Homo sapiens: one gene and its partners. The protein of the gene in region 1 purifies or fractionates together with the protein of each later gene. This does not show direct contact. Each region holds a gene or a part of one and is shown in the gene's direction. Other genes may lie near its edges.

Region 1 (4,419 bases):
ATGACAACAATATCATGACTGATTCCTAGACAGTATCTGTTGCATTATGTCATCAAATGTTAGACTGATCCTAGTCTCAGAGATGACAAAAAATTAAAAGAAAAAAATCGTGTCTTGGAATTGAGGAAATGTAGTTTACTTTCTTCATACCATTATTTCCCTGAACCTATTGTATTTCAAAATGATTTTTGACTGGCTTCTATAATTATTTATTCTAGGCACTATCAGGATAACTCCTACTGATTCTCGATGGGTTGGAGCTTGGTGGCTTAATTTCCTTGTGTCTGGACTATTCTCCATTATTTCTTCCATACCATTCTTTTTCTTGCCCCAAACTCCAAATAAACCACAAAAAGAAAGAAAAGCTTCACTGTCTTTGCATGTGCTGGAAACAAATGATGAAAAGGATCAAACAGCTAATTTGACCAATCAAGGAAAAAATATTACCAAAAATGTGACTGGTAAGTATTTAACATTCATTGTCAATTTGGAGTTGTTAATCTCAATGAAAAGGAAGAATGAGTATTCCAAAATAATAAAGCATACCCAACTCATCTGGAGTTGGCTTTCTTTTGCACTAAATTTAGATAAATTATTTTTCTAAAACTCCTATTAAAGTTAACATATATGTCTTGAGCACATAACAAGTGGAAGAGAATTAGGTTTGTACTTTTTAGCAGGGAGAAACCAACAAAAGTTTACAAACATCCATTTTTTATGAGCCAAATAGTAAATATTAATTTTAGTATTATATGGTCTAAACTGGGAGAGTTCAAAGAATTATAATATTTCATTCCTTCATTTATTCAACAAGTAGTACCAGGAACTGTACTATGCCCTGGTAATAAAACATTACCTCTATTTTTCAAGAACCTAGTGGGTGATGCTGAGAAATATATAGACAATAGCAATATAGTGCCTTAAGTATTATGGTGAAATTAAACTTAACTATTATCAGGTGTAGAGATGGATTAAGGAGAAGGAAGTCGGGAGAAGTTTCTCCCTATGTAATTAGAGTAATATTTATTTTGGTAATTATCTATCTATCTATCTTATCTAAATATTCAAAATAAAGTGGAAGCAAAGGTGGTAGTTAAGATAATTAGACTAAGTAATGTAAATTAGGATGCATCAGCATTTGACAGTGCCTCCTCTTTTGAATATAAACCCTGGGACTAATGGAGAACCATTGAGAGTCAATAAACAAAGAGAATGACTTGGCAGTAGCCAGAGCAAGATATGTGAATCAGTGAGGTGTTGACAGCAGTTTTCAGATTTGGGAGAAATGGTGAAATAGCCAAAGCAATGCAACACTTAAACCCTCAGCATCTTTTTCAAGTTTTCTTTAAAGTAAGATGACAAATTCTCCAGTGTAGCCTAGGTTCTTCCTTTCATCAGGTCTTTTACTTATTACTTTATTGCTATTTTCTCCTTTCTATCACACTAACCCAAGAGCAGTGGTGTTCTGGTACTCTTTATATTGGCTCATAGCAGAGGACTGTTAAGTTTCAGCTACATTGGTAGGTTGAAATTGTTCATGGCAAGAGAATTACCATGATTTATTACCATGGAAATTGGGATATACTACAAGTAGAAGTTTGTTTTCCTAAGAATCAGATGTTAAACATTTATGTTTTTAAAATTTAACATTCACACTAAAAGTACTATACCAATAATTTTCATTTTGTATATGATGTTTCTACTGTACCAAATCAAATCTTTAAAAAATAGTAGATTGTCTAAACCTATAAGGAGCGGGGTTGACTGTGATCCAAACAGAACAGAGAGGATAATGAAGTTGTAAAAATAGGACAATTGTAGACATAATCTCTATTATGAACAGTTTTTGTAGGTGTGACCCTAAGAAAGAGGATCTTAAGTATGTATCTATTAGGAATGGATAAAATAAGAATATATAGTCAGAAAAAATATTGAATTTATTCCATATGCTCTTGAATAGAACTAAAACTGATTAGAATGAAAAGATGATTTCAGTTCATTACAAAAACAGTGTGTAAACAATGAGAACTTTTCAAAAGTGGAGGAAATTGCTTCCTAAGGTACTTAGTTTAATGCCACTTAAGTTGTTTATTGATCCACTTATTAATGATATATAGTAGATCATGACTATACAGAAGTTTACACTGGATGACATTGAATTTCTCATCCTCAAAAATGCAACGCTTGTGTGAATGTATATACTCCATTTCTGTTGAAGAAAGGCCACAACTCACTTATAATACTTACAAATCAGGGATGGTTTTTCATGACTGGGGAGACCTGTGGAGAGAAATGTGGCACTTTTGCCCAAGAATTTTAAATGTTGTTTATTCCCACTATACATTTTCTTATCTCTTCTTTTTTTCTTTTCTGTTTCTTTTCTCTAACTCCTTCTACTCCTTATTTCAAGCAGATGCAACTGTTTCGTAGCTGACATTAAATGGATGTCTTAGTTCTGACCATATCTAATGAAAATCTTTAGAGATTTAAATAGAGAAAAATATTTCAAAGTCCGTATCATCCAACTCTCAGTAACCATATCTTGGCTCTGTCTTGATGAACTCTGATACTTCCTACTGTTTTTCTAAGTAGTTCCTTCTACTTTTAAGTCCTATTACAGCTAGTTGACCTGGTGATCACAGATCCAAATGACATAATTTCTACCATGAACAGAAGTTAGAAGTTTGTTACCACAGCTGTTTGTAGGGATAGGTGGTTGTATTATTACTATTATAATACTACTTGGGACACAATATTATCCCCTGGCTGCTTTCCTTGTATCTTAAGACAGAGGGTTAATAATATTGCCAAATTTACTGAGAAAGTATGTTATGGTAGAAGAGCTGTATACTAGAGAAACAGGAGGTCTGAGTCCTCATACTAAATTAATCTTTAAGAATTTTGAACCTCAATGGTCTTATTTCTGTGAGTTTTGAATTATGCTGTCTTTACATTTCCATTTAATAGTTATATTTTTAATATAATACTTATATCATTAAGTACTAATAAATAAGAAACATCATATGTCTTATTCACTTTTTGTTTGTTTGTTTTTGGGTTTTTTTGTTTGTTTGTTTGTTTGTTTGTTTGAGATGGAGTCTTGTTGCTCTATTGCCTAGGCTGGAGTGCAGTGTCACCATCTCAGCTCACTGCAACCTTCGCCTCCCTAATTCAAGCAATTCTCCTGCCTCAGCCTCCCAAGTAGCTAAGATTACAGGTGTGTGCCATCGTGCTGGCCAATGTTTGTATTTTTAGTAGAGTTGGGGTTTCACCATGTTGGCCAGGCTGGTCTCGAATTCCTGACCCCAGGTGATCCATCTGCCTCGGCCTCCCAAAGTGCTAGGATTACAGGAGTGAGCCACTGTGCCCGGCCTTCACTTTTGTTTTTTGAACAATTAGCATATTGTCTGGTACCCAGTTGAAAACCTAACATTTGCTGAATGAATGAATAAGTGAATTAATATGTTTGCAATAGTATTGTAAAGTACCCAGGATAACCAAATATTAAGTGAAGAAAGCAAGTTACAAAACAGCACTTACGTATGACCCTATTTGAGGGTAAAATAAACTAAACTAATAAATATTAATATTCGTATGGAAAATATTGAAAGAATATATTTAAAAGCTGTGAACAGCCTGTGGTATTGCAGGCTATTCTCACTCTTTGTGTTATGTGTTTATAGAATTTTAAATCTTACATGACTTACGTTCACAAATTTTAGATATAAATGTATATTTAAGTTGCATTCAAATATTTTCTTTATTTTTACAATTTTACAGGTTTTTTCCAGTCTTTTAAAAGCATCCTTACTAATCCCCTGTATGTTATGTTTGTGCTTTTGACGTTGTTACAAGTAAGCAGCTATATTGGTGCTTTTACTTATGTCTTCAAATACGTAGAGCAACAGTATGGTCAGCCTTCATCTAAGGCTAACATCTTATTGGGTAAGACATATTTTTTACTTGTGTGCTTAATAAGTGAAATAATACTAAATACTGTATTCCAAGTGGTATTTTATTGTGAAAGTGATTTTGTATTTTAGTAATACAGGATAAGTATAATTTTCTTGTATTCTTTCTCAAATGTTATTAAACATATAAAACTTGTGATGTCACTATTGCTCTGCATTTGAAGTTGCATCTTATTTTAGATGAGTTCCTGAAAAAAATGTTGCAAATAAATGGACAATTTAGAGGTAGTATCTGTATAATTGGATCTTATAATTTAGTGCTAAGATCTGAGACAAACCCTTTTGTAATTATAATCATTATAATTCTATAATTTATGGACTTTGAAATCAAGACTCAGTTACTTACAAAAATATGACACTAATAGTTCCAAAAAGAGTATCGATTTAAATACATCAAAATATGCATAATTCAAAACAAATATATTTTACAGAGTATTTTTTGCTACAA
Region 2 (4,419 bases), on another chromosome or scaffold:
GCGTGTCTCTCTCATCATATGGGGATGGCTTCGCAGGCGTGTCTCTCTGATCATATGGCGACGGCTTCGCAGGCGTCTCTCTCTCATCATATGGCGATGGCTTCGCAGGCGTGTGTCTCTCTGATCATATGGGGACGGCTTCGCAGGCGTGTCTCTCTCATCATATGGCGATGGCTTCGCAGGCGTGTGTCTCTCTGATCATAGGGGGACGGCTTCGCAGGCGTGTCTCTCATCATATGGCGATGGCTTCGCAGGCGTGTGTCTCTCTGATCATAGGGGGACGGCTTCGCAGGCGTGTCTCTCTGATCATACACGTCAGCACGTGTGGCAAGTGTGTTGTTTGCATCTCTGTGTGGCTCTAAATGTTTGTTTTTTGAGACAGGGTCTCGCTCTGTCACCCAGGCTGGAGTGCTGTGGCGCAATCCTCCCACCTCAGACTCCTGCGTAGCTGGGACCACAGGCATGCACCACGGCACCTGGCTAATCTTCCTGTTTTTTATAGAGATGGGGTCTTTGCCATGTTGCCCAGGCTGGTCTTGACTTCCTGGGCTCTAGTGATCCACCTGCCTTGGCCTCCACAGGGCTAGGACTGCAGCCGTGCACCGCCTCTGTGAATGTTCTGAACGACGGGGCATTTGTCAGCTTTGCGTCCACCCCAAGACTTGTTTTGAAATGGTGAGGTTGAAACTCACAGGTGTCCCTTAAATGTGATGTGCGGTAACTTGAGTTGTTGAGGTTTTGCTTGTGAATTTCTCATTCTTCTTTCCCTTTTTCGTTCCAGAGCGCCGCCCTGTGCTGGGCTGCCGGGAGCTCGTCTTCAGGAACCTCTCCAAGATCCTCCCTGCCCTGTGCCACGACATCACCGACTGGGTGGTGGGGACCCGAGTGAAGTCGGCACAGCTGCTCCCAGTGCTGCTGCTGCATGCCGAGGACCACGCCACGCAGCACCTGGAGGTCGTCCTCCGGACCCTGTTCCAGGCCTGCACCGACGAGGAGGCAGCCGTGGTCCAAAGTGTAAGTGGCCGTATTCCAGTCGTGGTCGCGGAGCTGTAACTCGAGCTTAAGATCCCGCCTCTGTGGTGTGCGGGGCCCGAGGCTGTACTGTAGCCAAGACAGCGTTCCCCTCACCCCCGGGCCGCAGGCCCTCCCCACACCCAGCCCCTGGGAACAACTGATCTCCTTTCTGTGCCCGTAGGTAACAGCGTGTTGAGGGTGAACCCTTCATGCTCATTTTCAAGCACACTCGGGGGTGCAGTGCCAGGTGCATGTTGTGTAGACGTGTTGTGTAGACGTGCCGTGCACCAGACAGACAGGGCCCGGGCTGCTGACACAGGACCGAGATGCCCAGCGTTCAGCATTGACATCTGGACTGTCCTGAGGGCCCTTCCAGGCCTCGCAGGGGCTGTGGGAGCACCCAGACGGGGGATGATGGCACAGCTTCGGGTGTCCTGCGAGTGGTGTCCCTGGTGCAGTCCTCTTTCTCACTCCCTGTCCACACTCGGCTGCTGGTTATCGCCTCGTCACCACTGGGTACGCACGAGGGAGTCCCATGCTCAGGCCTCTCCTCCTCACTAGGCCGGGCCACGCCCTGCGCTGACAGTCACCACCATGAGGACTTCACACCCACCTCACAAGGATGCTTCCTAGTGCTCAGGAGAACAACTAAAGCTTTGACTTGAGATTTCAGTTGAAAATATCCTCATCTTGAACCTTAAATTCCATTGCAAGGTAGCCTGGCCAGCAGCTTTTACTTCTAGTGGTCCAGGTCACTGTTACTAGCCCAGCGTAGTGGCGTGCACCTGTGGTTCCAGCTCCCGGGAGGCTGAGGTGGGAGGATCGCTTGAGCCCGGGAGTTTGAGGCCTCAGTGAGCTATGATTGCGCCACTACTCTCCAGCCTGGGCGACGGAATGAGACGCTGTCTCAGATAAAACAAAAAAATCTAAATCATTGTGACTGATTTAAAGTAAATGTTCCAGGTTCCATGTTATTTACATGTCATGTTTCTGCTTTTCAAAAACTACCGTGAATTTAAAATTGTCTGTAGTTCTCTGTGGAACCTACAGGAGAGCAAGAGACACGGGGGTGAGGCTGAGAGGACGAGAGACGTGTGTGGGATCCGCTGTGGAATCCCACGGTGCAGAGGGGCTGGTGTGTGTGTGATCCACTGTGGAATCCCACAGTGCAGAGGGGCTGGTGTGTGTGATCCGGTGTGAAATCCCACGGTGCAGAGGGGCTGGTGTATGTGTGATCCGCTGTGGAATCCCACGGTGCAGAGGGGCTGGTGTGTGTGTGATCCACTGTGGAATCCCATGGTGCAGAGGGGCTGGTGTGTGTGTGATCCGCTGTGGAATCCCACGGTGCAGAGGGGCTGGTGTGTGTGTGATCCGCTGTGGAATCCCATGGTGCAGAGGGGCTGGTGTGTGGTGTCCACTGTGGAATCCCATGGTGCAGAGGGGCTGGTGTGTGTGTGATCCGCTGTGGAATCCCACAGTGCAGAGGGGCTGGTGTGTGTGTGATCCGCTGTGGAATCCCACGGTGCAGAGGGGCTGGTGTGTGGTGTCCACTGTGGAATCCCACGGTGCAGAGGGGCTGGTGAGTGTGTGATCCACTGTGGGCTTCCACGGTACAGAGGGGCTGGTGTGTATTGATCAGCTTAGTGATGGGAAGGTTGGGTCACTGGTGTCCGATGAGGGGTGTGTGGTGAACCCCACAGCTGGGACACAGCATCCTTTGGGCCAGACTTCACTGCCTGGGAGGCGTGTCCGGCTCGCTGGCCTCAGGGACGTTCTGAGACCACACCCGGACCCTTGTACCTTTCCTGAGGGCTCTGAGCATGTGCCAAGGACTCACTCTGCCTAACACGGGGCTCTGTCTGGTGCACGGCTGTGTCTGGGAGGCCACGGCGCCGAGAGCAGGAGCCCGGCTGAGACCCTCGGGTTTGGCTCTGAGTTTTCTCATGTTTCTTTCTCGCAGTGTACCAGATCCGCAGAGCTCGTCGGGACGTTTGTCAGCCCTGAGGTGTTTCTGAAGCTGATCTTATCGACGCTGAAGAAGACGCCCTCTGCCTCCGGCCTCCTGGTGCTGGCCTCCGCCATGCGGGGTTGCCCCCGAGAAGCCCTCCAGCCGCACCTGGCAGCCATCGCCACAGAGCTGGCACAGGCCCACATCTGCCAGGCATCTGAAAACGTAAGAGCACTTGGGAGATGCGGGAGTGGAGAGGAGGAGCCTCCCCTGCCCGGCCGTCAGCCATCGTAATGACATGTCTGTGGGTTGCCCTGTGCCGCCAGGCTGGGCTGTCGGAAGCACCCAGCGACGTGTCTGTGGGTCCGCCCCGTGCCGCCAGGCCGGGCCATCGGAAACACCTGCAGTAACCGGAGTGCCCTCGCTGATAGCCCTTGTTCCGGGGCCTCGTCCTGGGCTGTGCAGAGCTCCAGCCCCAGCCCCAGCCCCAGCTGCAGGCGGCCGCTCACGTTTACATTCGTTGCTGCCCCTTTCTTGGCCACACACCACAGTTCACGTGTTTGATGACTCAGGAGGCGTCCATGGCCGGGACCCTCTGGCCCATGCTGCTGGGGGTAGATGTGGGGTCCACGTCATCCCACCCCTGAGGAGCGTGGTCGCACGTCCACCATCCCATCCAGTCCCCAGGGTACCTGCACAGATCGCACGTCCTCAGGGGGCACTGACAGCCTGTTCCCCATCAGCCCTGCCTGGCGTTCCGATCTGTGCTTCTCACAGCCCAGCTGAGGATTTGCCAGAGACATTTGTTTAATTTTAAATTGAGCAGCAAATCCTTGAGCTCAGAAGCTGGAACAGCCTGGGTAGTTGGGCTCAATTGTTTGGAATAATCCATAGTTGTATTCCATGGAAGAAGAGGTGATGGCTTTGCTTTCATTTGAAGGTGAGTGGTCCCTGTCAGTGTGTGTGTTGGACTCAGCACCCCAGATATTTCTGGGACACAGGGCTGCCCCCACCAGGCGGCCGTGCCATGCAGGGCGGGCCTCAGCTCACCCCTGGAGGCACTTGCTCCGGCTCGATCGTTTCCGGCGGCTTCTATGGCCCCAAAGCTGGCCTGGGGCACGGGGACTTGCCACTGTGCTCTCAGCCCGGCCTGTCCTGTGTCAGGCTCCCTCTCCGTCCTCAGAACGAGAGGTGGGGCTGTTGACAGTCATTTTTGTAAACTGTTTTAAGAAACCTGTAAGCAGTTCCTGGAATACATAGAGGGAAGGAAACGGAGCTGGGGTAAGGAAGGGAGCGGGGGAGGGGCCCGGGCCGCGTGCTCATGGCATTTCAGCCATGCTTCAGCTTTTCCCAAAACCCGTTTTTAACACATCATCGAATGTGTGTCAGTTCTCCACTTTCCTTCACCCACGAGGGGTTATGAGGATGCCTTTGATTTCTGTATACAGATTTGCAAG
Region 3 (4,867 bases), on another chromosome or scaffold:
TTTAGAATAAAAATGCACACTGTCGTCTACACCATCTGCCTGGTCCACTTCTCCAGCCTCAATTCATGCCCACCAACTCTACTCCCAGGGACCTCCTTGTCCAGCTCCCGCGTTCCTCAACCTTCTCTCTTTCTGGGACATTTTCTCAGCCTTCTTGTCATCCAGAACTCAATTCAAACGACATCTTCCCAGGTCTATATGAGGAAACCTGCCCTTCCCATTAAACTTTAGACACTGTCTTCTTTGTTTACTACCTGTTTTCCCTTTTCCTGACACACTAGAATGCAATCACCCTGCAAGCAAATTTTCCACTATATCTCCAGTACCTGCTAAAGCAGGTGCTCATACATATTTGCTGAAAGAATTAATTACCAGATGGCAATTGTATATATTTTGTAATATCCTTACTTGGCAGAATTAAAAGCTGCCAATTTTGTGTAAGTCCCCATTTTAAAAAACAGGGCTATTTGTAAGCCCAGGACTATTGTGATAGATGAACTGGCTGCAAGCCCCTTACAACATAGGTGTTATAAGGAAAACAGGAGAAGGGAGAAAGAGGGACAGTGGATGGGTGGAGGGAGAAGTGGAAGGTGGGTGACTGGGTGGATGTGTGGGTAGGTTAGTGGCCAGATGGATGGATGAATGGGTGAGTGGATGAATGGTGGATGGGTGGATGCGTGGGTGGGTGGCTGGATGGGTGAGTGGGTGGATGAATGGGTGGATGGATGGGTGAGTTGGTAGATGGGTGGGTGAGTGGGTGGGTGGATGGGTGGATGAGTGAATGGGTGGGTGGATGGATGGTGGATGGGTGGGTGAGAGTGGATGGTTAGGTGAGTGGGTGGATGGATGGGCAGGTGAGTGGGTGAGTGGGCGGATGGTAGATGGGTGGGTGGATGGGTGGGTGAGTGGGTGGATGGGTGGATGGATGGATGGAGGGTGGGTGGGTGGGCGGATGGGCAGGTGAGTGGGCGGGTAGATGGGTGGTGGATGGGTGGGTGAGTGGGTGGATAGATGGATGGATGGGTGGATGGTTAGATGGGTAGGTGAGTAGGTGGATAGGTGGATAGACGGGTGTATGGATGGGTGAGTGGTTGAATGGGTGGATGGTTGGACGGGTGGGTGAGTGGGTGGATGGGTGGATGGATGGTGGATGGGTGGGTGAGTGGGTGGATGGGTGGGTGAGTGGGTGGATGGGTGGGTGAATGGATGAGCGGGTAGTGGGTGATTGGGTGAATGAATGAGTGTCTGGCTGAGTGAGTGAGAGGATGGGTACCTCTGGGAAGGTAAATCCAAGTTGCAGTGTAAGTTGAGCCAGGGGAGGTGGCCACAGTTGGCTCCCTTAGGCCGCCCACCTCGTGGGGTCACCAAGGGGTTACTTCGGGGCAGAAAGGTGCGGCTGTGGGTCGCCCCGCCCGGGTTTCCAGCAGCAGCACCCCAGCCCCCACCCAGCACACAGGCACCCCTCCCGCCCGGGCCCCAGACGCGCTCAGGCCGCCCCCTGAGGGCGCCCGTTCTCAGGTGAGCTCCCGGACTAGCGCGCATGCGCACAGGTGAGTGCCCGCCCCGCCCCCGGGCTTGGCCACCTGCCCAAGAAACTTGTTGGTTGTTGCCCTCAGGTCGCTCCCGGGCGGGGACACGGAACCCGGCCATGGAAGATCCGTCGGGGGCTCGCGAGCCCCGGGCCCGGCCGAGAGAGCGGGACCCGGGACGGCGCCCCCACCCAGACCAAGGCCGCACCCACGATCGACCGCGGGACCGACCCGGGGACCCGCGCAGGAAGCGAAGCAGCGACGGGAACCGGCGAAGGGACGGGGACCGGGACCCGGAGAGAGACCAGGAGAGGGACGGGAACCGCGACCGGAACCGGGACCGGGAGAGGGAGAGAGAGAGGGAAAGAGACCCGGACCGAGGCCCCCGCCGGGACACACACAGGGACGCGGGCCCTCGCGCAGGTGAACACGGAGTTTGGGAAAAACCGCGCCAAAGCCGGACGCGGGACGGAGCCCGGGGACTGACCTGGGACGCAGCCGCGCCTCCTGGGCCCGCGCCCTGGGAAGCCCCGGAGCCGCCGCAGCCGCAGAGGAAGGGAGACCCCGGGCGCCGCAGACCCGAAAGGTGAGAGGGGCCGGGGCGCTGCGACCTCCGCGCCGGGGACACCTGTGGCCCAGGCCGGCCCGCGAGGCCCTGGCGTCCCCGGGTTCTCGTCCTAGGAGCCCGTTTAAATGAACAAATGCCGTTTCTCCCTTCTGCGCTCTCAGAGGCGACCTGGCAGGGAAGGAAAACTTTAGGGTTCCCCCTTCTCGTGGCCTGAACCCAACTAACAAAGCAAAAACCACCCCTGTGAGCAGTGGCTGGGCTGGAGGACCTGGAGAAGAGAAAGAGAGGCCCCGGGACCCGAGAGGGAGGGGTGGGAGGAGACCAGGCGGGTGGGGTTCACCCCAGGCTCCTCCCCGGCCCGGCCCGCATGGTCACAGGACTGCGCCTTGGGGTTCAGACCCTTGTCCCGTGTTCCAGAGCCAGCCCTTCCCGACTCCAAAGTCCCCTTCCTTGTGGCCGGGCCGCCCACTTGGGAAGCCCGATGAAGAGTTAATAGTTTAATGTGTTACCCCTCCCAGGAATAGGTGCCTTCAGAAACAGGTGGGCCGGCGCGGTGGCTCATGCCTGTAATCCCAACACTTTGGGAGGCCGAGGCGGGCGGATCACCTGAGGCCAGGAGTTCGAGACCAGCCTGGCCAACATGGTGAAACCCCGTCTTTACTAAAAATACAAAAACTTAGCCAGGCGTGATGGCAGATGCCTGTAATCCCAGCTACTTGGGAGGCTGAGGAGGGAGAATCGCTTGAACCCGGGAGGCGGAGGTTGCAGTGAGCCGAGATCGCACCACTGCACTCCAGCCTGGGCGACAAAGCGAGACTCCGTCTCAAAAAAAAAAAAAAAAGTCAGATGGGAGACGCTACATTTTTAACCAAAGAACAAAGTCTACGTAAAATTCTCCCACTGAAGGGTACAGGTTTGTTTTCCCTTTTGCCAGTGAGGTCTCTCTAGGCAGCGTCATTCGAATCCCACGGCTGCTTGAGACCGCACCCTCCTAATGAAAAAACTTTGCCATCTCTGCCTTGCACAGAATTCCCATAGGCCCCTTGTAAGGAGAAAGGTTCAGGGTGTACTGGAAGACTCTGTGAGCTAGGGGAGGGTGGGGGGGGAAGGGAAGACAAGAGGGGACCTGGTCCCCACACCGCCTCCTAGGGACCTGGTGTTTTTTCCATCCATTGAATACCCAGATAATGTGCCCCACACGGTGAACTGTGAGCAGATGGGATATCTCCCCTGCCAGCTCCAACAGGAGACAGGTCCGAGGTGACGACTGCTTCTGGTTTTTGACACCTGGCCTCTCCTCTAGGGAGGAGTCAGGCTCCCCTCTCCCAGGGACTTGGAGGCTGAGTCCAGTCTGTCTCCCTGCTATGTCCACACAGCGGGAGAGCTCCTATCCTGAGTTTATGTTACATTATCTAAAACTAACTAGCATAACAAAGGGTGCGCCCAGATACAGTCAAAGCTTCGCCCAGGGAAACAGCTGTTGTTTCCCTGACTAAAGCCCATTGCACTTGCAACTGCAGGACCTGGGAGAATTCAGAGCTGCATTTTTAGGTTTCTTTAAAAACCACTGTCCGAGCCGGACGCGGTGGCTCACACCTGTAATCCCAGAACTTTGGGAGGCCGAAGCGGGCAGATCATTGGAGGTAAGGAGTTCGAGACCAGCCTGGCCAACACTGCGAAACCCCATCTCTACTAAACATACAAAAAAATTAGCAGAGCGCGGTGGCGCACGCCTGTAATCTCAGCTACTCGGGAGGCTGAGGTGGGAGGACTGCTTGAACCTGGGAGGCGGAGGTTGCAGTGAGCTGAGATCTCGACACTGCACTCCAGCCTGGGTGACAGAGTGAGACTCCATCTCAAAACAAAAAAAAAAAAAGGAAGACTGAGGAGGAAGAGGAAAGGTGTCCCAAGGAGAAGAATAGCTTCTGTAGTAACCCAGAGGCATGGAAAAGCAGTCATCTTTTGAGGGGAAGGGGGTAGTTCAGTATGGCTGGGTCTGCGAGCATGAGGTTGTGAGTGTAGAGAGATGAACAGGGGCCTCCTGTGCATGCTAAAAGTTTGAAAAATTTCAAACCTAAGAGAGACATGATGTTCTAGAAAGACTGTGGGAGCCTGGCAAGTAGAATGCAGCCCCCTGTTGAATCTTGGACAAAGCCCAGGATGTGCTGCATAAAGCAAGGAGAGAAGGGACAGAAAATGCTAGGGCTGCCAGAGGAGGAAATGATGTGATGATGTCAAAATCCGTGGTCTGCAGCTCCCATGCTCCTGGAGAGTTATTGCTGACTCAACACTTTCCAAAGTAACAAAGGGAGGAAGAGAATGCCTGCCTGGGCATCAGAGTCATGTGAATGCAAACTGGTTTTGAAGAGGCCTGGTGCATGCTGAACTGAGAACTTGCACTCACAGGAAGGCAGCTCGCAGCTACCTGGTGAGACAGCTCCCAGGGGCAGACAAACCATCAGCGGTACCAATCACAGCATCTGTCACGTGGTTAGTGGAGCTGGGCCAAGTATTTGGATGTCCCGTGGGGCCACTAAACCAGAGAATTCTCTGGAGTTTAAAATACCGGGACAAATTCTATTTCTGTTCTGCTAATATTTGGGCCCAGCACGAGGAGTCAAGAGTTCTAATCCTGAACGCTATTGAATGAGACACCCCCTAATGACCATGTATGCTTTTTGGTTATAGTGAACCCCCTTCGGAGAGATATCTGCCCTCGACCCCCAGGCCTGGACGAGAGGAGGTGGAATATTACCAGTCAGAGGCGGAA
Region 4 (4,419 bases), on another chromosome or scaffold:
CTAAGCCAGGACCTGCGGAACCAGGTATGCTGTCTGGTGGCACAGTGGGAAGGGCATGGCCCCAGGGCGGGTGGGCCAGGCTCATGGTCTCTCTCCAGGCCAGCAGTGGCACCACAAGGGAGATCACACTGAGATGCCTGTTAATTCTCCCCACCCCAGATTTGCTTCCAGCTCCTGACGCTGTGTCTGCGGGAGCTGTTTGAGTTCCGATTCATGCAGACTGACCCCAACTGGGCCAACTTCCTGTATGATGCCTCCAGCCACCAGGTTGGTTCCTAGTGATGTGTGTCTGGGTACATTTGCTGTTGTAACAAATATTCCTTGATATTTCGGTAGCTCAACAAAATAGCAGTTGATTACCCCCACAATAGGCAGGGGTGGCCCTTTTCCAAGTGGGATTCAGGGACCCAGCTCCTTCCCTTTTGTGGTTTTGCCATCCCTGGGGCCTTGCAACGCTCTGCTTCCCAAGGAAAGGGTAAGAGAGGTTGAGGGTAGCCCCCTGCCTAACTGCTTTGGCCAGAAGTGGAAAAAGTAATGCCCAGGCTAAATACACTAAGCTCATCCTGGGGCAATGGACATAGCACTTCCGTTGCCATTCCATCAGTGAGAGCTAGTGACATAGCCTGCCTAGGTGCAAGGCATGCTGGAAAATGGAGTCCCTGGCTAGGCAGTGGTTCCTGGTGGCAATGTGACAGCACAGAGGGGAAGTACAGCTTTTGGAAGGCAGTTAGCCATCACTACCACACTCGTCATCCATACAGAACACACCATCACCTGCCCTTGCCTCTTGACAGCAATAAAAAGACATCCCTGACCCTTGCCTTCTCAGAGTGCCCAGTCCAGTGGGGGGACCTGGCACCACACAGCGATGACCTAGAGTGGTTCGTACCAACCACAATGAGGAGCACAGGCCAGATGGGTCAGGACCGGGATGGGGGAGGCACAGGCAGAGGGGTGGGGGCTGGAGTTGGGGGAGGCACAGGAAGTTATGGGATCCCAGGGAAAGTGCCTGACTCACTGTGGGGTGAGCAGGGATTAAGGGAGGCTTCTTAAAGCAAGTGCCATTAAAGCTGAGGCCACTGAGAGGCTGAGGTGGGAGGATGGCTTGAGCCCAGGAGGTCGAGGCTGCAGCGAACCAAGATCATGCCACTGCACTCCAACCTGGGTGACAGGGCGAGACTCTGTCTCACCAAAGAAAAAAAAAAAAAGCTGAGACCAGAGGCTGAGCATGGTGGCTCATGCCTGTAATTCCAGCACTTTGGGATGCTGAGGCAGGAGGATCCCTTGAGGCCAGGAATTTAAAACCAGCCTGGGCTCTATTTAAAAAAAAAAAAAAGGCTGAGATGGGACAGGGGAAAAGGAGACAACCATCCAGAGAGCAGAGTGTTCCCAGCAGAGGGCAGGGGGTGTACAAAGACCTGTAGTGAAGGTTTGGACCTGCAGACTTGAGTGTTGGTGGATACATCATTACCTTTATCAGGGGTTGCCAACTGTTTTCCAAAGTGGTCTATCCCCATTTTGTCCCCAGAGGGGTCTTTCTAAAGCACAAATCTGGTCAAGATATCCCTCCTACAGCTTCACAGCCCCCTCAGAATCAAGTCTGAACCCTTTGCTGAGCATCCTGTGGCCCCACGGAGTCTCCAGCCCTAGTCCCTTGCCTCTTCTTTCTCCACAATGTGCATACACCCTGTGTCCCCTCCTAGGTTCATACCCCAGGGATATGTTTACCCAACTCCAAGTGATAGGAGTCCTGACATCAATTTATTGGTTTCCAACAGGACTTTTTTTTTTTTTTGAGACAGAGTTTTGCTCTTGTTGCCCAGGCTGGAGTGCAATGGCACGATCTCAGCTCACTGAAGCCTCTGCCTCTGGGGTTCGAGAAATTCTCCCACCTCAGCCTCCCAAGTAGCTGGGATTACAGGTGCCCGCCACCACACCTGGCTAATTTTTTGTATCTTTAGTAGAGATGAGGTTTCACCATTTTGGCCAGGCTAGTCTTGAACTCCTGACCTCATGATCCACCAGCACTTTTTTTTTTTTTATGGAATAGATGATGTCAGTATGTCACAGATGGGAGGGATCCATATTATTTTGGGACACTTTTCTTTTTTTTCCCCGAGATGAAGTCTCGCTCTTGTCACCCAGGCTGGAGTGCAATGGTGTGATCTCGGCTCACTGCACCCTCCGCCTCCCAGGTTCAAGCAATTCTCCTGCCTCAGCCTCCCAAGTAGCTGGGATTACAGGTGCCTGCCACCACGCCCAGCTAATTTTTGTATTTTTAGTAGAGATGGGGTTTCACCATGTTGGCCAGGCTGGTCTCGAACTCCTGACCTCAGGTGATCCGCCTGCCTTGGCCTCCCGAAGTGCTGGGATTACAGCCATGAGCCATTGCGCCTGGCCTTGGGACACTTTTGTTTGACGTTTTTGTGTGCATTTGCATGAACGCCCAGTAGAAACTCTCTCTCTCTCTCTCTCTCTCTCTATATATATATATATATATATATATATATAATTTTATTTATTTGTTTGTTTAGAGATAGAGTTTTGCTCTTGTTGAGAATGGAGGCTGGAGTGCAGTGGCACAATCTCGACTCACTGCAACCTCCACCTCCTGGGTTCAAGTGATTCTCCTGCCTCAGCCTCCCAACTAGCTGGGACTACAGGCGTGCGCCACCACACCCAGCTAATTTTGTATTTTTAGTATAGGTGGGGTTTCACCATGTTGGCCAGTCTGATCTTGAACTCCTGACCTCAGGTGATCCGCCCCCCTCAGCCTCCCAAAATGCTGGGATTACAGGTGTGAGCCATCACGCCCAGCCACCAGTAGAAACAATTTCTTACTGTGGGTTGTGGTCAGTTCAAACTCTACTGCCCTAGAAACATTCTTACAGGTGTTCATTGAGCACAAAAATTAGAAACAGGCCAGGTGAGATGACTCACTAATGTAATCTCTGCACTTTGGGAGGCTGAGGTGGGAGGATCACTGGAGCCCAGTAGTTCGAGACCAGTCTGGGCAACGTAGTGAAACCCTATCTCTACAAAAAATGTTTCAAACTTAGCCAGGTGTGGTGGGGTGCACCTGTGGTCCCAGCTACCCAGGAGGCTGAGGCGGGAGGATCACTTGAGCGTGGGAGTTTGAGGCTGTAGTAAGCCATGGTCGTGCCACTGCACTCCAGCCTGGGCAACAGATCAAGACCCTGTCTCAAAAAAAAAAAAAAATGTCAGAACAGAGTTTATAACTAATAAACATATTTAAAAAGAAGGAAAAAAAATCAGAAACAACCACAGTATTCCTCAGCCAGATAAATGCACTGTGATAGATTCACGCAACGAAGTCCTTACACAGCAGTGTGAAATGAGTGACTGAGCTGGAGCGACACATGGCAACAGGGATAAATCGCAAAACCATGCTGGGCAAAAAGCACAAGTTGCAGGAGAACGACAGTAAATACCACTTCTGTGAAGTTTGAAAATATGCACACCATTACTCTAGATTGTTTACAGCTGTACACATACATAGAAAATATAGAAATGCATAAATGAGAATTTCAGGAAATAATTTAATAATGATTGTAGGAAAGAGGTGACCCTGGGGACCTGGGGGAGGTGTGATCAGGGCGGGATACACAGGAGGCTCCACGTGGATGGGGAGTATTTTTTTTTTTTTTTGAGACGGAGTCTCACTCTGTTGCCCAGGCTGGAGTACAATAGCACAATCTCGGCTCACTGCAACCTCCACCTCCCAGGTTCAAGCCATTCTCCTGCCTCAGCCTCCCAAGTAGCTGGGATTACAGGCACGCACCACCGCACCTGGCTAATTTTTGTATTTTTAGTAGAGACGGGATTTCACCATGATGGCCAGGCTGGTCTCAAACTCCTGACCTCATGATCCACCCACCTTGGCCTCCCAAAGTGCTAGGGTTAGAGGTGTGAGCCACCACGTGTGGCCGGATGGGGAGTATTTTATATTTTAGGCTGGGTGGCAGGATTTGTGAGTATTCATTTTACTTTTCTATATCTTTTATTATTCTCTGGATTTTTTTTCTGGGTCTAAAATTTGTTATTGCATAAACAATTAGAACTAAAAGAAAAAAAAGCCTTCAGCTAGGGGGTCGGTTGGAAACGGGAGATGAGGCCAGGAGCCCAGTGAGGCAGCCAGGCAGGGACTCTGGCAGGAGCAGGCAGGGTCATGGGGAGGGAGACAGATCCTGGCTGCCCCAATAGACAGTGAGGGTGTGAATGGGATCCCAGCATTCCTTTCACCATTCCTTGCTTCCAGGTGACCCTGCTGGACTTTGGTGCAAGCCGGGAGTTTGGGACAGAGTTCACAGACCATTACATCGAGGTGAGTCTCCCCCAGACCCCAGGGCCTCTGAAAGGCTGAGGCTCAAGCCATATACTGAGGCAGAGGAGTAAGAA
Region 5 (4,419 bases), on another chromosome or scaffold:
GAAAGTTACTCTCAAAAAGTAGATGGATTTATTCGAATATAAATATTAGCATTTGGTAAATGAGAGAACCTAGGACTTCTGACTCCAAGCCCAGTGCTTTTACTCTTCCCCAAAGTTTTCTTTCTTAAAGTTCTTACTTAGCTGAAAAGAAACAATTGTGGTGGCTGTTTGTAGCAAATCATTGATTTTATGTTGAAAGGGCCAGTTTGGGTCTATAACTGTGCTTCTCAAAGTGTCATCTCTCTGGACCTGCAGTGGCATCATTTGAGAACTTGTTAGGCCCCATCACAGACCTACTAAATCTGAAACTCTAGATGTGGAGTCCAGTGAGCTCTGTTTTCATAACCTCTTCGGATGATTCTCTAATGCCCTCTAAAGTTTGAAAACCACTGGTCTGTAGGCTTTTTTTTTTTTAATGTGGTAAAATACATATAAAACTTACTATCTGAACCATTTTCAAAGTGTACAGTTCAGTAGCGTTAAGTACATTTACATCATTGTTAACCAATCTCCAGAACCCTTTTTATCTTGTAAAAGCAAGTCTCTGTACCCATAATTCCCCATTCTCCTTCTCCCAGTCCCTGGCAACCACCATTCTACCTTCTGTCTCTATGAATTTCACTACTCTAAGTACCTCATGTAAATGGAATCAAAATGTATTTGTCTTTTTGTAGTTGGCTTATTTCCCCTAGCATAATGTCCACAAGGTACATTAACGTTGTCACATGTGTCACTTTCCTTTCTTTTTAATGCTGAATAGCATTCCATTGTATGTATTTACCACATTTTGTTTATTCTTCTATATGTTGATTGGACAATTGGTTTGCTTCCACATTTTTGCTGTTGTGAATAATGCTACCATGAACATTGATGTACAAGAATCTGTTTAAGTCAATACTTTTAATTCTTCTTAGTATACACCCAGAAGTTGAATTGCTAGATCATATGATAATTCTGCTTAATATTTTTTGTTTTCCTCAGCAACTACATTATTTTACATTTCTACCAGCAATTCATAAGTGTTCTAATTTCTCCACATCCTCACCAACACTTGTTACTTTTGATGGGGGAGCATTTTTGTTTTTGTTTTTATGATAGGCACCTAATGGGTGTTAGATATCTTTGTTTTTATTTGCACTTCCCTAATGATTAGTCATGCTGAACATATACTTATTGTACTTATTGGTCAGTTGTGTATATTCTTTGGAGAAATATTTATTCAAGTCCTTTGCCTGTTTTTTAATTTAATCAAGGTGTTTTTTGTTGTTGTTGAGTGATGGGCTGTTGTAATTCTCTTAAATGTACTTTTAAAATGGTTAGAACAATTCAGAAACTCAGTTGTAAATTCAAGTGGTTGAGAATGTTAGAGTTGGAATTGGCTATGACTCAATCTTATGGCCTTGGGCAAGTTTAGTCTCTTTGTCATTTTGTCTCTTCAACTATAAAGTGACAAGATTAGAATATAAGTCATTCGGGAGCTGTATTTTACAGAGATCTAGGGAGCAGGTTTTTTTTTTCATATCTACATATTGAGAAAAGATCCTAAAACCCCCTATACTAATGGAAGTTACATTACCATTTCCTTCTTCTCTCCCTACCTACACTTAAAATTACATAGTAATAATATATCTTTATAGTGGAATTGATTGCTGAAGTATTCAATCATTAAAAGAGTTTGAGTGATTTCATCTATTCACAATAAATTTAGGGGCCTCTTTGATCTCAAATTTACCACAGTTTAGGAGTTTATTGATTTTATCAATAGCTTTGGGGTTTATTTGAACTGGTTCATTACTGTTGTGAGATATTGACAGCATTATATACTCATAAATGCCTTCTTGACTATCTGTCTCTTTAAGAACATCTATTTTAAGTACATGTTGAAATCATACATAGTCTCCAGATGACAGCATAGCAATAGAAACTTCTGTGTTTTGTTCTCTGGTGGGGAGACTTCTTCTATTAGATACTTACCTTATATACCTCTTACTGTGTTTTACTATCCCAGAGTATTTGATAATTAATCTGTAGAATTCTATACATGACACATAACAGTTGCTTCTGCAAGCCACATATGTTCTATAACATGAAGACTCTCAGACCATATGCCTTCAAACATATAACTGTAGTAGAGTCCTTTGTAACCACTTTAGTTGAAACCACATAACTAATCATAAAGGTCAAAGTGGATAATCCTAAAAACAAAAACCTATGTACCTTAAATATTTTATTTTAACCTAAAGGATATAAATATATATTCATTGACAATCAGTCTTTTTTAAAGCTAAATCTTTTATTTGTGTATGGATTTCTGAGCTCCACATTTTCTATCCTGGATAAATTACACTACAGTGCATCCTATATAATTTCCAGCTTAGTTTTTTTAAAAAAAAACAATTTATTAAATCATGTAAATTACATTAACAAGTAAAACTGGCATAAATAGATTGGGGACAAACATAGTGACTTGGTAAAAATACAGCTCATCTGGTGGGAGCAAAAACGCATGAGTGCAATAGAGACAGTGTTAAAAACACAGAAGAGAAATGGCCATGTATATGCTGATGTTAAAGAAAAATGGCGTAACAGCCAAGGCCGGGCATGGTGGCTCACACCTGTAATCCCAGCACTTTGGGAGGTTGAGGCGGGCGGATCACCTGCGGTCAGGAGTTTGAGACCAGCCTGGCCAACATGGTGAAACCCCGTCTCTATTAAAAATACAAAAATTAGCCAGGCATATTGGCACACGCCTGTAATTCCAGCTACTTGGGGGCTGAGGCATGAGAATTGCTTGAAACTGGGAGGTGGAGGTTGCAGTGAGCCTAGATCGCACCATTGCTCTCTAACCTGGGTGACAGAGTGAGACTGTCTAAAAAAAAAAAAATGATCTAACCAAAAAACTAAAATTATAAGTTTTTCTGATATTTATACTTTTAAAAAATAATTCATTAGAAGCCCAAACCTCAGCATCACACAATATACCCATGTAACAAACCTGCACATATACCCCAAATCTAAAATTTAATTTAATTTAAAAATGATAACATTGGCAGAAAACATCAAAGGAAGAATCTATACAAATGACCTTAACAGCTTTTAGGTATCTTCCATGCTAGTGGTTAGTGGTTCCTGACATATATAAAGAGTATATAAATTCATATGTGAAATAGGTAGACCAAAAAAAACCCAAAATATATATGTACGTGTAATGCATACATATACATCTTATCTATATATGTACTACTGACTTTCAGATATGTGAGACTGCTTAGTGTACCTAACAAAATAAAATTAGTTCAAAAAGCAGTTTTTTAATTCATTGTGCTTTTTTTTTGTTGTAATCTACATTTTCTTAATGAATGGACACTAAAATTATAGCTGCTAACTTACGGAAATCTCAAAAATGTCTTGTGCTTGATTTAAAGTTAAAACTATTACTCCACATTTGTGATACTTTTTTTCTTTCTATGCGTTAATGTGTAGGGGTTGGTGTGTGCTGGATTGGCTGATATGGCCAGACCTGCAGAAAAACTTAGCACAGCTCAATCTGCTGTTTTGATGGCTACAGGTAAATTAAATAAATATCTTCTGTGTTTCTTGTAGAACATAAATGATTTTTGTTTTCTTTTATATCAGTTTATTTAGTGGCTTAGTGTTTGAAATACACCCACACACAAAGGAATTAACAGTATTATGTCTAGGAAGTTATTAAGTTATGGATGGAGGAGTCACAGAAAGAATAAGTATCTGAATGGGCTTTTGCTTTTCAGGTTTTTGCCATGAACATATTTTTATAAGTGGGAAGAAAATTACAGTTAATAGTCACTTTAAAGATTCCTCTTTCATGTAAGAATTGAGTATTTTCTGTGACACTAAGTTACAGAAACATTGAAAATTCAGAGTATAGCATTTCTTTGTCCCTCATCCTACATTATTGTTGTAATTACTTTACTCAATATTAAGTATTCACTGAAGTTATTGAAGCAGTATGTATTCTTTTTAAAGTAACATTTTGTTTCAACAGGGTTTATTTGGTCAAGATACTCACTTGTAATTATTCCAAAAAATTGGAGTCTGTTTGCTGTTAATTTCTTTGTGGGGGCAGCAGGAGCCTCTCAGCTTTTTCGTATTTGGAGGTAAGCCTACCAGAGATATTTTTAAAACTGTTGCAAAAGCTACTTAGATGGCACTAATTTTTTTTTTTTTTGAGACGGGGTCTCGCTCTGTTGCCCAGGCTGGAGATGGCACTAATTTTTTTAAAAGATTCATATATAATGCTAAGACAAGAAGTATCTAAAGTAGAAATTTAACATTTCTAGAAAAGTCTAGGGGTTTACAAATAAGTTAACCAGTTAACTAGTTAACTGACTAAAATCAGTTAAGCAGTATGTTACCTAGTTTTTAGATTTAACTGTGCAT
Region 6 (4,419 bases), on another chromosome or scaffold:
AGGAGAGGAGGAAACCTTGAGGGATTGCTTGAATACTTAAAAATGAGGAATGCCTTTAAAGGCAAAATAGAAACTGTCTAAAAGAAATATGAGAGCCCTGTTTGTAATTTTGAGTTGTCTGATAGCCACATTAAAAAAAGTAAAATTAAAGATGAATTAATTTTAATATATCCTAGAATTAATTTTAATAACGAAATTTATATATTTTAATAATAAAATATATAAAATTTAATACTATTTTATTAAGTATATTCAAAATATTTCAACATGTAATCAATATCAAAATTATTGAAGTATTTTACATCATCTTTTTGTACTGTCTTTAAAACCCAGTGAGTATTTTACACTTTCAGCACATCACAGTTCAGACTAACCACGTTTTAAGTGCTCAGTAAACAGTGACTACTCAATTAGATAGTGTAGTTAGAGTTAGTATCTAAGTTATAAAGAATTTTTACAAACCAGTATACATTCCAGTAGGAAAATGGACAAAGGAATTGAATACAAAGTTCATAAAGTTGTTCAAGTGGCCAATAAAAATGCAAAAATGTTCCATACTGAAAAACAGAGACTTTAAAGGGTTTTACTTCTCACTGCCTATTTCATTTTGGCCGAATTTTTCATAATGATAATACCCCATATTGAGGGTGTGGGAAAACAGGAACTCTCTTAACTACTGATTGAAAACATAAACGGTTTATGCCCTCTGACCTAACAGTTTTTACTCAAAAGGATTTACTTTAAAGAAATAATCAAAATACATATTAAAATGTTTGCAGAAGTTTATTATAGTAATAAATTGGTAGTTCATAGTTATGGAGAGTGGGAAACTGAAATATATTATGATACCTTTATTATGGGCTGGTGATGTATACAACCATTTTTTTAAAAAATTATAATTCAGGGCTGGGTGTGTTGGCTCATGTCTGTAATCCCAACACTTTGGGAGGCCGAGGTAGGGGGATCACCTGAGGTCAGGAGTTCGAGACCAGCCTGGCCAACATGGTGAAACCCCATCTCTACCAAAAATACAAAAACTAGCTGGGCATGGTGGCGGGCGCCTGTAATCCCAGCTACTTGGGAGACTGAGGCAGGAGAATCACTTGAACCCAGGAGGTGGAGGTTGCAGTGAGCTGAGATTGCGCCACTGCACTCCAGCCTGGGCGACGAGCGAAACTCCATCTCAAAAGAAAAAAAAAAGTTATAATTTAGAAGAATAGTGACATGGAAAATACTCTTGTGTTATTAGGTAAAAACTGTAGAAAAATACAGTGAAAATATATACTGTGATATTAACAGTGAGTTTGTCTAAAAATTTTTTTATTTGTGTTTTACAAATGATCTACAGTACACATATACTTCTAAAGAATAAAAATGTTACTTAGTTTCTGTAGTAAGTATATCCTTTTTTATAAAAAGTTCTTTGGGTTAGGATAGAGCACATATTTCTTTTTTTCATGTATTTATACCTTGCCTCATTTGGCAAAAATTTGAGAGGGGAAGACACTTAAGTATACTAGATGAACACTGAAATTAATAAAAGTGTAATTTTTAAATAGAAAATAGAAATCAAACATACTATGTTATTATTGTCTCCAATCTGCTAGTATTTATTGTCATAAGAAAAGTAGGCTGAGAATTTAACTTTTATCCCCAGCAGAGGTCCCTCCTCCTCCTCAACCTCTTTAAATAACTAAGAGTATTGACAGTTACAAAAGACCAGTCTGGCCAACATCGTGAAACCTCATCTCTACTAAAAATACAAAAATTAGCTAGGCATGGTGGTGGGCGCCTGTAATGACAGCTACTCAGGAGGCTGAGGCAGGAGAATTGCTTGAACCCGTCAGATGTGGTCTCAAAAAAAAAAAAAAAAAAAGACCATTTAGACTGTCAATGCTCTTAGTTGTTTAAAGAGGTTGGGGAGGAGGAGGGACCTCTGCTGGGGATAAAAGTTAAATTCTTAGTCTGATTAAGAGAGCATTGACAGTTATAAAAGACCATTTAGGGCTGGGTGTGGTGGCTCACACCTGTAATCCCAGCACTTTGGGAGGCCAAGGTGGGCGGATCACCTGAGGTCAGGAGTTCTAGACCAGCCTGGCCAACATGGCAAAAACCTGTCTCTACTAAAAACACAAAAAAATTAGCTGGGCATGGTGGCAGGCGCCTGTAATCCCAGCTACTTGGGAGGCTGAGGTGGGAGAATTGCTTGAACCCAGGAGGCAGAGGCTGCAGTGAGCCGAGATCGTGCCATTGCACTCCAGCCTGGGCAACAAGAGCAAAACTCCGTCCCCCCACCAAAAAAAAGACCATTTAGGCAGGCAGACAGGAAGATTCTATGCAGATCAAGTTCATGATAGAATTTATTGTACTTAAGTATAAAATGAAGCTAACTGTAGTATGTGCCTCCTAGAGTTTTTGTGAATGAGAATCATTCAGCATTGGATGCCAGGCATTATAGTTGCTGATAGTGTAGTGCTGAACGAGGTGGATGGTTTCCACCTTTCTTCCACCAGAAATAAATATATTTAAAGTGCCATAGAAGAGATAGGCAGGATGATGGGCTAGAAAGTAGCCAGGATGGGCTATTTCATTCGATAAGATGGCCTAGGACTCCAGCTTTTCTGAGGTAATGACTGAGCCTAGGCATGAAAGATGAAAATGAGCAAGCCACGTGAAGGTCTGGGAGAAAGAGCAATTTGGGAAGAGTAAAGAGGAACTGTAAAGATCAGACTAGTATGTATATATGTATGTATTTTTGAGAAAGGGTCTTGCTCTGTCACCCAGGCTAGAGTGCACTGACAGGATCACAGCTCACCGCAGCCTTGACTTCCTGGGCTCCAGTGATCCTCCCACTTCAGCCTTCTGAGTAGCTGGGACCACAGGCTAGCGCCACCATGCCCAGCTAATTTTTATATTTTTGTTAGAGACTGGGTTTCACCATGTTATCCAGGCTGGTCTCAAACTCCTGAGCTCAAGCATTCCACCCATCTCGGCCTCCCAAAGTGCTGGGATTTTAGGTGTGAGCCACTGCGCCTGGCCCAGACAAATAGTTTTAAGGAGCAGAAAGAAACCTGTTGTGTCTAGGGTATGGTGGGGTGGTATGAAAATAAATTTGAGTTTTTTTATTTTTTGTGGTTTTTTTTGAGATGGAGTTTTGCTCTTGTTTCCCAGGCTGAAATGCAATGGTGGATCTCGGCAGACTGCACCCTCCACCTCCTGGGTTCAAGCAATTCTCCTGCCTCAGCCTCCCAAGTAGCTGGGATTACAGGTGTTAGCCACCACGCCTGGCTGATTTTTGTGTTTTTAGTAGAGATGGGGTTTTTCCATGTTGGTCAGGCTGGTCTCAAACTCCTGACCTCAGGTGATCCACCTGCCTTGGCCTCCCAAAGTCCCATTACAGGCGTGAGCCACTGCACCTGGCCGAAATTTGAGTATTTTAAGCCATAGGCTTAGAAAAAGAGGAGTGTTTTAAAATATCACTCTGGCCCAGTCGTAGTGGCTCATGCCTGTAATCCCAGCAAAATTTGGGAGGCCAAGGTAGGTAGATAACTTGAGTCCAGGAGTTTGAGACCAGCCTGGGCAACATGGCAAAATCCCATCTCTACAAAAAAAAATTAAAAAATGTAGCCAGGTAGGGTGGCACACGCCTGCGGTCCCAGCTACTCAGGAGTCTGAGATGGGAAAACCACCTGAGGCTGGGGAGGTTGAGGCTGCAGTGAACCATGATTGCACCACTGCCCCAGCCTGGGTGACAGAGCAACACCCTGTCTCAGAAAAACACAGGTGGGTGCGGTGGCTCATGCCTGTAGTCCCAGCACTTTGGGAGGCCAAGGAGGGTGGATTACCTCAGGTTAGGAGTTCAAGACCAGTCTGGCCCACATGGTGAAACCACATCTCTGCTAAAAATACAAAAATTAGTCAGGCGTGGTGGCACATGCCTGTAATCCCAGCTACTTGGGAGGCTGAGGCAGGAGAATCACTTGAACCCGGGAGGTAGAGGTTGCAGTGAGCTGAGATCACGCCACTGCACTCCAGCCTGGATGACGGAGTGGGACTCCATCTCAAATAAATAAATAAATAAATAAATAAATAAAAATGAAAAAGAAAAATAGAATTAAGCAAGGCAGTAGAGAGGTATGTCAAGATGCAGTCTAGGAAGTTGTCATCATCTCCTATTGTTTCCTAACTCAAAAAAAAAAAAGATTCTCTGTTTTTTACTCTGCTCTGGCGAAAAGTTACATCAGCAGTGGTCTTCTAGACTGAGCTACTCCATCCAGGTCACACTTTTGCTTGCTACATGATTAAGGATAAAAAGGATTTTCCTGTAGTTTTGGCTAGCTGAAAGGATTAAAGTAAACCAGAGATAGTCAATCTGTTAATGGTAGACTATATTACAAATTGTGATAATGATGTTAATAA
Region 7 (4,419 bases), on another chromosome or scaffold:
GCTGGTTAGTATTCCCATCAGCAGAGCATGAGGGTTTTTATATCACCACATGCCTGGCAACACATTACATTCTCTAGGGCATAGGGGCATATCACCTTGTTTCAGATTGCCTGTTTATATCTTTTGATTTTTTTTTTCTAGCAGAGTTCCTGCCTTTTTATTGGTTGTTGGCAGGAGTTATTTGTAATAGCCTTGATATTAGTTTCGTGTTCTTCTTTCAGTCTATTATCTGCCTGTTAACTTTGTCCAGGGATTCATTTGCTGAGCAGTAATCTTTAATTCTGATGTAATTTAATGTGTAATTTTTGCCTTTGTGGTTTGTGTTCTTAGGCTTTTATTTAATAAGTCCTTTCTTGTGCTTATGTTACAAACTTATTGTACTCTTCCTTCTATCAACTTTAGTTTTATTCACATCTAAGTCATTAAGTCTTCTGTAGTAGGTCTTGAGTATGTTGTAAGGTGTAGGGATCTGTCATTATGAAATAAAAGAGGTGTTTCCCATTACCATCTTCTGTACAATGTGTTTTTCTTCATTGATTTGTGGAGTAATCGTAATCTTTATTGTATATTATTTCCATATATACACAGGTCTGTCTTTGAATTATCAATTGGGGTCCTTTGGTTTGTTTACTTTTTATACAAATACCATGCTGTTTTTCTTACTACAGCTGTATAGAGTGGCTTGATATCCAGTAGGGAAAGTGCCCCTCTTCATTCTTTATTGTCAAGGTTGACTTGGCTATTTGTTTATTATTTCATAAAAGTGAGTCAATTTATGCAGTTCCTCAAAAAAGTCGAGTGAGAATTTTGGTTGTGATTCGTTGACTTTCTGTATTAATCTGGGTAGAATTATTATCTTCATAGTATTGTCATTCTGTTCAGATCATCCACTGTGTCCTTTTTAAATGTTTTTCTTCATAGATGTCCTATGAAGGACCAAAACATTTTATTCCAAACATTTTAGTTATTCTGGCAGTCTTGCAAAATGCTGTTTTGTTTTTGATAACCTACTATTGTTGGTTAGTGCTGCTAAGGAGAAATGCTATTTATCTTTCAAAGTTGATCTTGTATCTGGCCTAGTTGGATTTTTAAATTTATTTGAATAGTTTCTTGATTTTTTAATAACTGTTTTAATCTAACTTCTCCAATATATACATACTTTTTCCATTTTATTAATTTCTCAACTCCCAGTTCGAGTCCCTTTGCTCCCACCCCTTTCCCCCACCTTCTTTTAATCTGTTTGATCGATATTGAATTTCTTATTTTCCTTCAAAACTACCAGACCTTTTTGTGGCTGCCTTTGTATGGTTTCTTCACTTTAATGCCCTTCCCCTTCTTCTTGTTCTTCGTCTGCTCAAATATCATCATCTTTGTGAAGAATTTCCCTTCTGACCCAGGCAGAATTGGTTGCTGTTATCTCTGTGTTCCTAATACAGATAGTTCATATTCTTTCATGGGATTTGCCGGATTTCATAGTAATTTCTTTTTCTATGTTTGATTATTCCGCTGACTCTTCACTAGGACTCCTCTCTTTCTTCTCTCCTTTTTGCTCCTTCCCCCTCAATCTCTTGTCACTGCTGTGATGTTCTCAATCTCTTGTCACTGCTGTGATTGGCTATGTTCTCAGGCAGGATCCATCGACAGAGAAAACCAGTAGCAGCTCTATCCATACATAGTTCTTAGCACTCACAATCTCAGAAGGAGAGAGTGCCTCTTTTCTGATAGTTCCAGAAGTGCTGGGAAGGATTTTGACAAAGACCATTTTTATTGGCCAAACGTGGATCACCAGAAGGCAGAGTCGTGCCCCATCCAATCCACATGTATGGAGGGGAGGGAGGTTCTCAGGAGGACAAAAGGGCTGCTTTTGCCAGAAGAACAGGAGGTGGATGTTGGTCAGGCAAAATCAACAGAGGACAGCTGTAAGCCAGTCAACAACATTCTGGATCCTTCTTTCATGAAATTCCCTTTACATTTTTGTTGCAATGAGTATTCCATTTGTGCTTATGAATACATATTACCTGACCTCAGCATTCTTCTTCCTCTTTGCTATCCTAAGTTATATATGCCTTGTACGCTTTGCTGATGGATCTATTAAGGAAGGTATTCAATAAGTTTCCAGTCAAAATGAAAACAGTAAAGATCCCTCCATCTTTCCATTTATTTATCCATTGAGTACCTATTATATACTAGAGTTGAGAATATAAACAACAGCAAAAATGAAAGGTTCTCTAGCTAGAGTCTCATATATTATAGTAAGAAAGATTTGTAAGTAATTGCCACTCATACTCCAGGTTTTAAATGCCACTTTTTAAGAGACGCTTTCTTTTGATCCCATAGTTACTATCAGAGTGTCCTGTAATCCTCTCCTGTTATTACTTGTTTTTTTCCTTTATAGTCCTTTTTGGAGTGATTATTATTTGATTTTTCTTTTTTCCACTAAATTGTAAGCTTCATAAAGGCAGGAGCCTTGTCTATTTGTTGATGGATATGTCCCCAATATGTAGCATAATGCCTGTCTAGAGATAGTAAGAATAAATTTTTAATCAATATTTGTTGAACATCATATGAGCAAAAATACTGTGTGATAAGCAATTTGATATAATTTGTTTCTCTGGGCCTACGGAAGACACACATGGTTCTGTTTAGGAATTTGGGGAAATGGGTTTTTAGCTTGCAGTGACTCTTATTGTCATGTTGTATTGCTTCAGTATTCTTATGTGCTGGAAGCTTTCCTTACCTCCCAGCATCAAACCCTCTACTCTTCATTCTTCTACATTTATAGGATTCCACGGTAAGAGAGGATGATCCAAGGTTAACACTTTTTTTGTTCTCTCACTTCTGATTGTGTTTGGCCCAATTAATTTTGAAGGAGAAGAACACTTTTTTCTAAATACGTATTCTTTCCCTAAGGTTATTAGACCTAGTAATTATTAATAGTCATAGATTTTGGTTTAAGCAAAACTAAAACAATTTAGTAAAACAATTTGTTTCTAGATCTGAGGCATACAGTAAGATGTTAAATTGTAAACCACCACAGCTGATTCTTTATTATTGATGCAATGACAAAATACATTTGCAGTCTGGCACGATGGCTCATGCCTGTAATCCCAGCAGTTTGGGAGCCCCAGGCAGGCAGATCACTTGAGCACAGGAGTTCCAGATCAGCCTGGGCAACATGGTAAAACCCCCTCTTTGTAAAAAAGACAAAAATTAGCTGGGCATGATGGCGTCTGCCTGTAGTCCCAGCTACTTGAGAGGCTAAGGCAGGAGGATCACTTGAGCCTGGGAGGTGGAGGTTGCAGTGAGCCAAGATCGCGCCACTAGGTGTCAGCCTAGGTGACAGACACAGACCCTGTCTCCAAAAAGAAAAAAAAAAAAGACAGAAAACGTTTGCAAATGTATTGGACATAGTCATCCATCTGCCTATCTAAATAGGCTCTAACTCACAGCCAAGTATTTGTTATGTCAGGATTTGGCTTTAAACTCTGACCCAGGTGAAAAGCCTAGCCAGGAGACTATTGTGTATGGATTCCAGACAGGCGTGGGCTATGTTTTGAATGAATGATTATTGTGATACAAAATTTTTGGGGGTTCTGAGCACCCAAATCAAATCATCATTAGTAAATCATAACATGACATGAAACATCAAGTTTGTCTTTCATTCAATTCATGAAAGAAGAACAAATACAAGAATTGCTTTATTTTATTTTTTAAATTTTTTATTTTTATTTTTTGAGACAAGAGTCTCACTCTGTTGCCCAGGCTGGAGTGCAGTGGTGTAATCTCAGCTCACTGCAACCTCCACCTTCTGGGTTCTAGTGCCTCAGCCTCCTGAGTAGCTGGGATTACAGGCATGTGCCACTATGCCCAAGAATTGCTTTTTACAGGTTAATTTTTACAACAGTGATTATGGAAATTTCAGGAAAGAGATTGTTCTACAATACTTTAAAAGTCAGATTTCTGAGTAGAGCTGAGCTTTATTCAACCACGTAATAAGGCTAATTGCGTGGGTCTCTTGTGTTTTTCTTTTTTTATATGTCATTTTTAAATATATTTCTTTTTCTTTCTTTATTTTTTGTTTTTGAGATGGAGTTTCGCTCTTATCGCCAAGGCTGGAGTGCAATGGCACGATCTTGGCTCACTGCAACTTCCGCCTCCCAGGTTCAAGCCATTCTCCTGCCTCAGCCTCCCTAGTAGCTGGCATTACAGGTGCCCGCCACCATGCCCAGCTAATTTTTTGTATTTTTAGCAGAGATGGGGTTTTACCATGTTGGCCAGGCTGGTCTCAAACTCCTGACCTCAGGTGATCCACCCGCTTTGGCCTCCCAAAGTGCTGGGATTACAGGCGTGAGCCACTGAGCCTGGCCTTTTAAACATATTTCTATCAGTAATAACTCCTTAAGATATCTGGTAGAATTT

What was found.
Region 2: the proteins of SLCO1B1 (region 1) and DNAAF5 purify together in Homo sapiens (affinity purification with mass spectrometry; one large-scale study listed by BioGRID and IntAct). This does not show direct contact.
Region 3: the proteins of SLCO1B1 (region 1) and MARVELD3 purify together in Homo sapiens (affinity purification with mass spectrometry; one large-scale study listed by BioGRID and IntAct). This does not show direct contact.
Region 4: the proteins of SLCO1B1 (region 1) and COQ8B purify together in Homo sapiens (affinity purification with mass spectrometry; one large-scale study listed by BioGRID and IntAct). This does not show direct contact.
Region 5: the proteins of SLCO1B1 (region 1) and MPC2 purify together in Homo sapiens (affinity purification with mass spectrometry; one large-scale study listed by BioGRID and IntAct). This does not show direct contact.
Region 6: the proteins of SLCO1B1 (region 1) and SLC30A9 purify together in Homo sapiens (affinity purification with mass spectrometry; one large-scale study listed by BioGRID and IntAct). This does not show direct contact.
Region 7: the proteins of SLCO1B1 (region 1) and DYM purify together in Homo sapiens (affinity purification with mass spectrometry; one large-scale study listed by BioGRID and IntAct). This does not show direct contact.

What each region holds. Positions count from the first base shown.
Region 1 is NC_000012.12:21,196,728-21,201,146, forward strand, and holds part of SLCO1B1 (solute carrier organic anion transporter family member 1B1), read left to right. Parts: intron 1-218; coding exon 219-461; intron 462-3,780; coding exon 3,781-3,945; intron 3,946-4,419. UniProt on the Homo sapiens protein: Mediates the Na(+)-independent uptake of organic anions.
Region 2 is NC_000007.14:753,808-758,226, forward strand, and holds part of DNAAF5 (dynein axonemal assembly factor 5), read left to right. Parts: intron 1-781; coding exon 782-1,014; intron 1,015-2,974; coding exon 2,975-3,187; intron 3,188-4,419. UniProt on the Homo sapiens protein: Cytoplasmic protein involved in the delivery of the dynein machinery to the motile cilium.
Region 3 is NC_000016.10:71,624,582-71,629,448, forward strand, and holds the start of MARVELD3 (MARVEL domain-containing protein 3), read left to right. Parts: upstream 1-1,602; 5' UTR 1,603-1,648; coding exon 1,649-2,115; intron 2,116-4,785; coding exon 4,786-4,867.
Region 4 is NC_000019.10:40,695,915-40,700,333, reverse strand, and holds part of COQ8B (atypical kinase COQ8B, mitochondrial), read left to right. Parts: coding exon 1-24; intron 25-159; coding exon 160-267; intron 268-4,279; coding exon 4,280-4,345; intron 4,346-4,419.
Region 5 is NC_000001.11:167,919,696-167,924,114, reverse strand, and holds part of MPC2 (mitochondrial pyruvate carrier 2), read left to right. Parts: intron 1-3,483; coding exon 3,484-3,568; intron 3,569-4,024; coding exon 4,025-4,136; intron 4,137-4,419. UniProt on the Homo sapiens protein: Mediates the uptake of pyruvate into mitochondria.
Region 6 is NC_000004.12:41,992,971-41,997,389, forward strand, and holds part of SLC30A9 (proton-coupled zinc antiporter SLC30A9, mitochondrial), read left to right. Parts: intron 1-4,419. UniProt on the Homo sapiens protein: Mitochondrial proton-coupled zinc ion antiporter mediating the export of zinc from the mitochondria and involved in zinc homeostasis, zinc mobilization as well as mitochondrial morphology and health.
Region 7 is NC_000018.10:49,334,772-49,339,190, reverse strand, and holds part of DYM (dymeclin), read left to right. Parts: intron 1-4,419. UniProt on the Homo sapiens protein: Necessary for correct organization of Golgi apparatus. Involved in bone development.